Regions from separate parts of the Homo sapiens genome. Here regions 1, 2 and 4 are each linked to region 3. The links come from fine-mapping of genetic effects on gene expression. A gene starts in region 3. Each other region holds a variant in brackets. All regions are shown on one strand. Distances are from middle to middle.

Region 1 (2,687 bases), 27 kb after region 3:
ACGCTGCAATTAATACTCAAACTGCAAGTGTGGAAACGTTTCTGCACTTGCAACTTATTTCCACAGTCCAATGTGGGATGCACTTCAGGAATTTCCAATGCCCTTTTCATCCATACAACATGCCCCAAATTGGTATTAAGGTTTACAACCTGTGTTCCATGTCAGCACACGCAATCAGCGCACCATGACATGGTCAACTCATTCTTTTATTCAACAAATATTTATGGGCCTCACAAGCCTGCGAAAGGCGTTAAATGCTGGGTCCACGAAACCGGTTCCCTGACAGGCATTCTGCTGGGGAGTTAAGTCCACTTAGTGTGAAAGCAAACACGGGTGATAAATGCAAGCACACCCTGGGGATAAGATTTTATGGTAACAACCCTTTAACTTGTTTGTGGCTGTTAAGTGCATTTCAAAGTATCAATAAGCTAAAACGATCTCACATTGCCAATCAGAGACTCAGCTAATGGGAGAATAAAAAACTATTAAATCGACATCCACTTCTACAATCCTATTCTGGATAACCCCCTAGCACAGCACAGCAGAGAGTGAGGTAATGCGGTCTTATTTCCGCTCCTGCTGTGGTAGTTTTCAAATAAGTCCGAACCATGCTAAGTAACCTGAGCTTTTCCCCTTTTTGTTCAAACAACGTGCCAACCAAATAATGGAGTGGTCCCAGATAAGTATTGTACCCATCTTCTGCACCAGTGCTTCCTACGTCCCATTTTATTGAGAAGGCATGCATTCAAATATTTCACGTAATTTCTAAAAATTTGGAAAATAACGGTTGGAAACTCTACATCTTGGTTTGACGGCTAGTCAGTTATGAAACACAGGTATACAAAATTGGAAGATTTTTGTAAGTAAACCCTTTGTGAAAGATATAAACCTTTCTTAGTGTAATAAGCGAGGTATCTGAAAAAACGCAACTTTTGAAAAGGAAATACTCCTAATTATCTGATTCAGGAGTTTCCACTTTAAATAATGGGTTCTGCCTCCCTTTTTTCTATTGGGTTAAACTGGTTTCAAATAAAATGGGAACGCTCCATGCAAATGAAGGATGATAGATCTGCTTTCTAAATGGCTGTTCAAGAAAATAGCCTAAACCAATCAAAAGATAGAATGTGGCCTGTCTCTTGTGAATTTAAAAAGGTCACAATCCACTTTTCAGTGTTTTGAGATTTTCAAAATGATTGCATTAGCTCTTGGCAATGCTAAATTATGTTCCTTGCGAACCACTATCCAGTTTCTCTTGGGCCAAGTCCACCTCCTGCTCCGCAAGAGGAACAACTCCCAGCTGGTGGTACCTGGCGGCAGTGCTGGAGAAACGCCATTTTGTGACTGGCAGAGTACACCTAGGCTTTAGAAAACAAAAGCTGCAGAACGCTGCAAGTTTAGGATTCAAAGAGCATAATCAAGAGAAAGACGTCTCATAGAAAATGTTTCTGAGTAATAGTGTAATCCTACTATGTTTGAGATGCTTTGTAGATTTCAATAACACTCCTAAGTCAATTAAAGCATTACAAAGGAATCCAATTCTTGTGAAAGGTTTCAGAAATTCCCGTAAAGGGTACATTTCCGGAGAGGAGGTGAGCAGTATTCCCT[CTT/C]TTTTTTTTTTTTTTTTTTTTTCCTAAAGAGCTGAAGGTTATACGGAATTGGGGAATTATAATACCTTTGGAATCAATGCCTTGTTTTATGGAAAATAAACACAGCCTTCAGGTTATGAAAACCAGATGTAGAAGAGGACAAGTTTAAAAAATTAAAGTCCAAGCCGGCGCAGTGGGGCTCCCCTGTAATCCCAGCTACTCTGGATGCTGAGGCGGGAAGATCCTTTGAGCCCAAGTTTAAGACCAGCTTGGGGAACAAAGCAAAAGTAAAATAAAATAATAGTAGTAATAAAATACCACTTAAATAATCATCTGTAGAGTTGGAATAGAATATAGTAGCCGGTGAAACTGCACGATTGTTGCTGGCTTAAAGATAGACCAATCAGAGTGTGTAACGTCATATTTAGCGTCTTCTATCATCCAATCACTGCACTTTACACACTATAAATAGAGCAGCTCATGGGCGTATTTGCGCTAGTGTTGGGTGTTCCGCTGTGCTGTTTTTCCGTCATGGCTCGCACTAAGCAAACTGCTCGGAAGTCTACTGGTGGCAAGGCGCCACGCAAACAGTTGGCCACTAAGGCAGCCCGCAAAAGCGCTCCGGCCACCGGCGGCGTGAAAAAGCCCCACCGCTACCGGCCGGGCACCGTGGCTCTGCGCGAGATCCGCCGTTATCAGAAGTCCACTGAACTGCTTATTCGTAAACTACCTTTCCAGCGCCTGGTGCGCGAGATTGCGCAGGACTTTAAAACAGACCTGCGTTTCCAGAGCTCCGCTGTGATGGCTCTGCAGGAGGCGTGCGAGGCCTACTTGGTAGGGCTATTTGAGGACACTAACCTGTGCGCCATCCACGCCAAGCGCGTCACTATCATGCCCAAGGACATCCAGCTCGCCCGCCGCATCCGCGGAGAGAGGGCGTGATTACTGTGGTCTCTCTGACGGTCCAAGCAAAGGCTCTTTTCAGAGCCACCACCTTTTCAAGTAAAGTAGCTGTAAGAAACCAATTTAAGACAAAAGGGAATGCATTGGGAGCACTTTTCGTTTTAATGCTACTGAAGGCTTCAAAACCAATCGATTTCG
Region 2 (2,687 bases), 24 kb after region 3:
AAATAAATAAATAAATAAATAAAATAATAAAATACAACCTAAAACCTAGCAATCTCAGCCCTGGAATTCTATTCAATTGCACCATGTTCAGCAGTGGTAACTGGAAACATCAATGCTTATCAATAAGAAATGGATGAATAACTTATGCTATTCCATGTGAAGGATTTCTTTTTTCATGACAGGGTTTTAGAAAAGTTTGGTTAAGAGAAAAGCAACATGCAGAAGTGTATATAACATCGTTGTAAAAAATTTTTATTATTTTTGTTTTGAGACTGGGTCTCATTCTGTCACCTAGGCTTGAGTGCAGTGGCACGATCTCTGCTCACTGCAGCCTCTACCTCCCAGGTTCCAGTCATCTTCCCACCCCAGCCTCCCAAGTAGCTGGGACTATAAGTGCGTGCCACTGGGCCTTGCTAATTTTTTGTATTTTTTGTCAAGATGGGATTTCACCATGTTGCCCAGGCTGGTCTTGAACTCCTGAGCTCAAGTAATCTGCCCATCTGGCTTCCTAAAGTGCTGGGATTACAGATGTGAGCCACTGCGTCCAGGCTTTGTTTTTTAAATTAATAACCCTAATCAAAAGACAAAACAATTATGCATACAAGGCCAGGCACAGTGACCGTAATCCCAACACTTTGGGAGGTCGATGATCACTTGAGGCCATTTCTAGACCAGCTTGGACAACATGGTGTGACTGTCTCCACAAAAAATAAAAACAAAAAGCCCGGCTTGGTGGTGCGTGCATGCAATCCCAGCTACTCCGGATGCTGAGGCTGCAGGATAGCCTGAGCCCAGGAGTTGGAGGTTACAGTGTGCTGTGATTATGCCACTGCAGTCCAGTCTGGGCAACAGACTGAGACCCAGTCTCAAAAGATAACGTGTTTTTTTTTTTTTTTTTTTAAAAAAACAAAACCACAAGTATGCATGTATATAGATAGGTGTATGTAAAATACTTAGTTCAAAGAAAAACATGTATATTTCTCACAAAAATAGGTGAGAATTTTTGTTTTAAAGGATAAACCTAGGTAGCTACATATTAGTTTGAGGAAGGGGGAACAGGGATGTGATGTGCCTGTATCCCTGACTTTAGACGATGGAAGGAGCTAAGCAAAACAATTGAAAAAAGACCGTTTGAAAAATACAACTGATTATTAACTCATATGCACACACGCAAAAATAAACTTTTAGAATTGAACTGCACTAAGTAAAAGTGAGTAAACTTGGCTCATCATATACTCTTGTCAGATGTAAACAAAAAAGTCCAATTATTAAAATCTGACCCCCAGAATTAAAATTGCAAAAGCTTAAAGGGGCAGTTCTGAGAAAAGGATCTTCAGTTTTGAATGTGTGGGCTCCACCAGGGTTGAAAATCCTGCACGACTGATGAAACACGATCCAGTTAAGCACAGTAATTTTCAAATATCCAATCAGGGCGCTTCCGTTTCTAAAAACAGAGAAACCGAGCAAGGGATTTTGGGTTGCAGCTCTAAAACTCCAACAAACTAAGCTCCTTTGTCCTGACAAGGGCCTAAACCAAGTCGACAGCCCGTAAGTGCACCCATGGTAAGGCGCTGCACAAAGAAAGCATTTTGCGTTTCAAAGCTTTGTCATGATGGCGCTGCAGAAAGCAAGCGAGCTAGGCCTA[C/T]CTGGCGGGGCTTTCAGAGGACGCCAACGTGGGCGCCAGCCACGCCAGCAGGGTCACCGTCCTTCCCAAGGACAGACAGCTCGCTAGCCACTCCTGTGGAGAGGGCGTGGTTAAGCCATATATTTTGCCAACTATCCCAGAAGCATTTCTTAGGACCACCCAATTTCGGAAAATGCTACTTTAGCAATATTGACCCCAAAACGCAATATCCCCACTTTAACCTTGTATAATAAAAAGCCTCAAGCCTGGGACTGGGCTTCAACCTTGGTTCAATACGGTTATGACTAATTAGCTTGGAGTCGTGAGACGCGGGACTTCCGGCTACCGAAACCCAGGTGACTTTAAAACTCGATTTTAACTCGGTGCATTTGAATTCACCTTGCTATCTTTGATAGATTGAGTAGTAAATTCTTACTAGATGAGGCTATGTTAAAGTTCTATCGACTCTCCAAGTGATTCTAATATAATTGAGGGCGTGTTGCATTTGCTTGGGGGATTTCATCTGTGTACTACAGCTCTTTTCCTGAAATGCGTAGGTGGCTCTTAAAAGAGCCGTTGGGTTACTAGAAGAAACTTCTAACTGAATTTACTTTTTCTTGGGTGCCGCTTTCTTGGGTTTGGCAGTCTTTGGCTTCGTCACCCTAGCCTTGGCCGCCTTGGGTTTTACAGCCTTAGCTTTAGCAGGGCTTTTAGCTACTTTCTTGGGCTTTACAGTTTTGGGTTTTTTTGGATTCTTGGAGGATTTCCTTGTTGCCGCAGGCTTTTTAGCCTTTTTCGGAGTCTTGACGCTCTTTTTGCTAGCCCCCGTGGCCTTTTTGAGCTTTTTAGATGCACCCGTTGCCTTAGTTTTTGTAGCCACCTTTGAGGCGCCGGGCTTGGTTTCCACGGAGGACGCCTTCTTGTTGAGCTTGAAGGAACCCGAGGCTCCGGTACCCTTTGTCTGCACCAACGTTCCCTTGCTTACCAGGCTCTTAATGCCCAGCTTAATGCGGCTGTTGTTCTTCTCCACGTCGTAGCCTGCGGCCGCCAGCGCCTTTTTAAG
Region 3 (2,687 bases):
AAATTATAAAAGAAACGTTTTCACCTTTCTGTGGTACAGCTATAATTTCTGGTTTCATTTACCAACTGGGTGAAAGTGGACCAGTGACACCATTTGTCTGGGCCTTCCTTTCCTGAAATATAATATTGGGGCAATAGTCCCTGGTTCTTGTAAGGTGTTCAGGCACAAAACGCTAGGCATGTAACATACTAAATGAGGTTTTCCCAGTTAATTTATATGATTGCAAAGGACGTTCATATACACGGTCTGCTAAAGAATTCTGGGGCCAATTAATCTCTGTGGCATGATGGGTAAGTCGATCCCTTCTCTGGGCGTCTATTACTTCAGAAAAGGCATGAACTCAATTTTAGGGACCACACAAAAAAATTTATTCACTATCGTGTAGGACTTGGTCATTAGAGAGCTTTTGTTTCTTTTTTTTAAAATTTTTTTTAATTTTTATTTTCGTGTATGTGAATTTAATGGAGAGCTTTTAAATAACCAGATATTTAAATAACCAGATAATACAGATGCCCGGCCTGCTCCAGACAAATTAGAAAAGTATGTAGGTGAGGAGGGACCAGCCAGAAGGCGGTTTCAGCTCTGGAGTGACACTGAACGTACTTCTCTTCCAGGGATGTCACGAGGTGTCAATTTCTCTGGCCTTACCCAGGTCCATGCCCGCCCCCAGGGGCCCCAAGAATGACTTCAGCACCCCACCCCCACCTCCCTCTCCAGATGTGGGTCCTGGGAGCGTTCAAGGCCCGTCAGTCACTCGAGCCACCCCTTGGCGGCTGGACCAAATCTTGGGCTGCCGCCTGGATCTGCAGCTGGAAAGCGCCGTGACCACCGGTGTCCCCAGCTGGAGCAGGGCGGGCTGCACGACTCGCGAGGACGCCCTGAACCGCGGCTTCCTCTTTCATAGCCGCAGGACTCGTGGTCAGAAGGCCGACTCCAAGCCTCAGCGGATCCACGAAATGGCCTCTTTGAGGCTGTGGTGAAATTTAAGATACCCTTTCCCTGCCATTGTTACTGACGTACTTCAGCAAACAGGTTAAAGTTCTGAAAGGACGTGGTCACGACTTTATATTTCTTACAGATTTGTGTCTCATGTTTTGTGCGTAAAAACCATTCGTCCTCATTTGAGATTCTCATATCCGTAATTCAGTTATACATAAAACTGAATTCAGTTATATCATAAAATGTTCCCATGCGGGGAATGATTCGTTGGGGTCTCAGCCTGAGGCCAGACGCAGCAGAGAGATCGGGAGTTGGGGGATGGCGGGCGGGGAGCGGAGAGGAGGCCGCCCGCCGCCAGACTCAGGGTCCAGCAGAGCAGCAAATGCTCCCCGGCTCCCAGCCAGGGCGCAGCTGCTGGCCTGGGGCCGCCCCTCACGCCGCAGGAGCCCCGCCCGCAGCGCCGGCCCTGCCCCTGGCCTGTGAGGGCGCCAGCGCCCCCTACAGCTTGCAGTCGCCCTGCGCGCCTCCCCGCGAGGCTTGTTTTCTAGCGCCTCTGGTGGGCCGCCTCCCGCAGGCCTGGTGTGAGCCTGGGGTCCGTTCTCACAGCTGGATCTGGGGTCTGAATGCCGCGCCCTCTGGAGAGCCACAGATGGGTCTCCGCTGATGCTTCTCTCAATTTCCTCTAAGAGCGAGAGCTCCGGGAAAGGAGCCGATCCTGGTGGAAGACTACAGGTCTGAGTCCACTGGACGAAAAACGAGGTGCGTTAAGAGACCGCGGGAGTGGGGAAATGGGGAAGTGAGGGTGGGGACTGGGCAATGGGGGCGGGACGAGAGGTCTGGGGCTGGCGGGGACAGGGCTTAAGAGAGAGCCACCCCTCCTAGCCTTGAAGCTGTACCGAGCTTCCCTGTGATATTTTAAAATGCAAAAGTACAAAAATTGAAGTAATGGAACTATGCGTACGCACCTCCTAGATTTTTAAAGGTTAACGTGTGACTGTGTTTACTTCAGATGTTCCTGAAATAAATGAAAATGACCAGTTAAAATGAAGGAAGAACGCGCTTGCGTCCCTCCTAGAGGTCAAACACTCTTCTGAGGATAGGTTGTATGCTCTCAGCGCCTCTTTTTATTAAAAGTATTAAGAAGTACTTTTCCAAATATTAGATGTAGTGTGTCATATCATTTAAACGATTTTTTTTGTTTAAAATAGTCTTTTAAAAATAATCTTTTTATTTTTAGATTTTTTTGAGACAGAGTCTCGCTGTGTTGCTCAGGCTGGAGTGCAGTGGCGCCATCTCCCCTCACTGCAACCTCTGCCTCCCAGGTTCAAGTGATTCTCCTGCCTCAGACTCCCAAGTAGCTGGGATTAAAAGCGTGAGCCACCACACCCTACCAATTTTTGTATTTTAGTAGAGATGGGGTTTCACTATGTTGTCCAGGCTGGTCTCGAAATCATGACCTCCACTAATCCACCTACCTCGGCCTCCCAGAGTGCTGAGATTACAGGCATAAGCCACCGTGCCTGGCCACTTTAATCATTTTTGTTTTTGCATCTAGTCTAAGAAATTCTGCACTAAAATTCTGCACTATTTTCTTCTAAAATTTTAAAACATTTTCTATCTGTGTCTTTGTTAGATGTAGAAACTTTTGTGTATGATATGGGGTATAGCTATAATTTTATTTTTATTCCATATGAAAGCCAGTTTCTCAGCCCAGGTAATTGAATAGACCATCCTTTCTCCACCAACTC
Region 4 (2,687 bases), 75 kb after region 3:
TCTTTTGGTGGACAAAAATAATTATTACCCACAATTGACAGTGACAGTACTGAGAAGCTGGGAAACTGAAGTAGGACCCTGGAGCAGCCAAGTACAGAGACTGGCTCCCAGGACCTTAGGAGTTAATACTATTCCTAAAGAGAATAAATTGTCAAATAGACAAGAAATTCATGTGGGTTGATGCATTCACTTCCCCAAAACAATTATTAAGCAGTAGAAATGATAACTACGCTGGTAGTGGAAATAGTTTACAGTAAAAGGGAGAAGACATGCAAAAACCAAAAAAAAAAACGGGGCCGGGCGCAGTGGCTCACTCCTGTAATCCCAGCACTTTGGGAGGCTGAGGCGGGCCGATCACGAGGTCAGGAGATCGAGACCATCCTGGTTAACAAAGTGAAACCCCGTATCTACTAAAAATACAAAAATTAGCCGGGCTTGGTGGTGGGTGCCTGTAGTCCCAGCTGCTCAGGAGGCTGAGGCAGGAGAATGGCGTGAATCCGGGAGGCGGAGCTTGCAGTGAGCGGAGATCACACCACTGCACTCCAGCCTGGGCAACAGAGCAAGACTCCGTCTCCAAACAACAACAACAAAAAAACAGGCAGTGATGTTTTATGTGGGTCAGTGTGAAGTAGAGATCAAAGGAGAAAACGGCCAATCTTACCAAATAATGGATGCAGAAATAATCTTCATGGAGAAGCCACTTTAATTATGTCTTAAATGAGAGTAACAAATTAAACATAAGAACCTGTAGGGGCTAAGGGAAAACTTACTCTTTGGCCTCTGAAGAGTCGCTGAAAACCACCGACAAGAGGAAGATTAATAGGATAAAATGCATCCAATTTATTATTATTATTATTATTATTATTATTATTATTATTATTTTTAGACGGAGTCTCACTCTGTCACCAGGCTGGAGTGCAGTGGCGCAATCTCGGCTCACTGCAACCTCCGCCTCCCGAGTTCAAGCAATTCTCCTGCCTCAGCCTCCCCAGTAGCTGGGACTACAGGCATGTGCCACCACGCCCAGCTAACTTTTGTATTTTTAATAGAGACGGGGTTTCACCATTTCGGCTAGGGTGGTCTTGACCTCGTGGTCTGCCCGCCTCAGCTCCCAAAGTGCTGGGATTACAGGCGTGAGCCATTGCACCCGGCTGCATCCAATTTATTAATGTGTATATTAATAAATTATCCAATTTATATCCAATTTATTAATGTGTATTAACATGTACAGGGGAAATTGTCCATTTTTATTTTTTAGATTCAACAAAGTATGGGCCGCCGTGTAGAAATAGGATTGCTAATAAACAGAGTAGGGAAACCCAGCAAGGCCTGTCTGTCTAGATTCTTCTTCGC[C/T]TCTCTGTGCAGCATTCCTTCCTTCTGGATCCTCTCTGGAATGCGGTCTGGTGATCTATGATCAAATAAGGTAGTTCAGATAATTTCTTTATGGCCAGTTTTTACACAGAAAAACAGAGGGAAAGTTAGAGTAATATTTTTAGGTTTTATGGCTGGGCTCTGGGGAAAAGGTGTTTTGATTTCTATGACCTAACTTGAGGAAGAGGAATTCTCATTTCTATGGCTAGACTCCGGGGAGAATGGGACTCAGAGACAGGAGGGCAGGAGAAGATCAGAGAAAAACTTTGGCTTCTGCGGTCTTTATTTTGGGGTATTGTTTTCTGAGTTCCAACAAACCCCAAGGACCTACAAAGACTGCATACTTTTTTTTTCCTTTTTATTAATTGTGAGATAACCACAGCATAGGCAATTTGTTTTTTGTTTTTGTTTTTGAGACAGGATTTTGCATTGTTGCCCAGGCTGGAGTGCAGTGGCATAATCATAGCTCACTGCGTCCCCAAACTTCTAGGCTCAAGAGATCCTCCCAGCTTAGCCACAACTGAGAGGTGCTACTAGCATTTAGTGAGTAGAGAACAGATATGACTAGAGGTTCATTAAGTGTTTTGAGCCTTTACAGCTTCAAAATTGTCTTTGCTAACCCCTAACTTTTGGATGCTACAGAGGGCCCCTGGAGTATCCAAAGGAGAGGTAAACAGGATCATTTGACACGTTTAGTTATATAGGATTGTTGAAATAAGGTGATATTTGATCTTCAGGTCATATTTCAGTGAAAACTGTGAATGTGTGTTCCAAAATTATAGGGGATTTCTAGAGTTCTGATATCTGAGTTTGTGTCATCAGTTATAATTAGAGTTATTGTGTTAGGCTATTGTAAATCACAGAGGTGACTAAATTTCTTTGTCAATTGTGTTTTTGACTGTGACTACCCTAGGACATTTTAACATTCATAGACAAATGTTGTCTTGTTTTGAAACTCTGCAAAGAATGGATTATAACCCTCAATTGCAGGTTTCTGATAACTTTGAAGATTGTGAACAGGAGTTAACTAGGTGAGCTGAACTATTGGAAAACTAATCTTCTTGACTCTTGCCTCTGTACCTAATTCTTCCTGGATGCAGGACAAGAACTCAGGCAAAGGTGCTGCAGCATAAAGTCTGGCCAGAGAAACTGACACTCCAGAGGTTTTGTAACAATATTTTATGTTAAATAATTTATACGTATTTCCTATTCTAAGCATTTCAAGTGATTGTAAAAACTCAACTCATGAAAACTTATAGCTGAGATGATGTATCCTGTGATTTTTAACTCAACTTTATACCAATCTAAGTTGATTA

The links.
Region 1: its variant is fine-mapped to the expression of LINC02980 in whole blood (INTERVAL, PIP above 0.99).
Region 2: its variant is fine-mapped to the expression of LINC02980 in whole blood (TOPMed, PIP above 0.99).
Region 4: its variant is fine-mapped to the expression of LINC02980 in nucleus accumbens (GTEx, PIP 0.98).

Annotation. Positions count from the first base shown.
Region 1 is chr6:26,018,373-26,021,059 of GRCh38, forward strand. It overlaps H3C1 (H3 clustered histone 1), which reads left to right and starts at 2,079. Exons shown (of 1, transcript NM_003529.3): 1 at 2,079-2,586. The coding sequence starts at 2,118. The coding sequence ends at 2,528. RefSeq lists enhancers at 1,591-2,407, 2,408-2,687. The variant CTT/C (reference allele first, on the strand shown) is at 1,606.
Region 2 is chr6:26,014,854-26,017,540 of GRCh38, forward strand. H1-1 (H1.1 linker histone, cluster member) reads right to left here. Exons shown (of 1, transcript NM_005325.4): 1 at 2,179-2,687. The coding sequence ends at 2,232. It also overlaps the pseudogene H3P26. Among named protein-coding and RNA genes, the nearest start is that of H1-1, 1.6 kb to the right of the region's middle. RefSeq lists an enhancer at 1,127-2,126. The variant C/T (reference allele first, on the strand shown) is at 1,646.
Region 3 is chr6:25,991,221-25,993,907 of GRCh38, forward strand. LINC02980 (long intergenic non-protein coding RNA 2980) reads left to right here and starts at 1,447. Exons shown (of 3, transcript NR_186645.1): 1 at 1,447-1,698. It overlaps TRIM38 (tripartite motif containing 38), which reads left to right. Exons shown (of 8, transcript NM_006355.5): 8 at 1-11. RefSeq lists a silencer at 1,256-1,565 and an enhancer at 1,556-1,765.
Region 4 is chr6:26,066,204-26,068,890 of GRCh38, forward strand. No RefSeq gene overlaps it. Among named protein-coding and RNA genes, the nearest start is that of H1-2, 11 kb to the left of the region's middle. RefSeq lists an enhancer at 410-909. The variant C/T (reference allele first, on the strand shown) is at 1,354.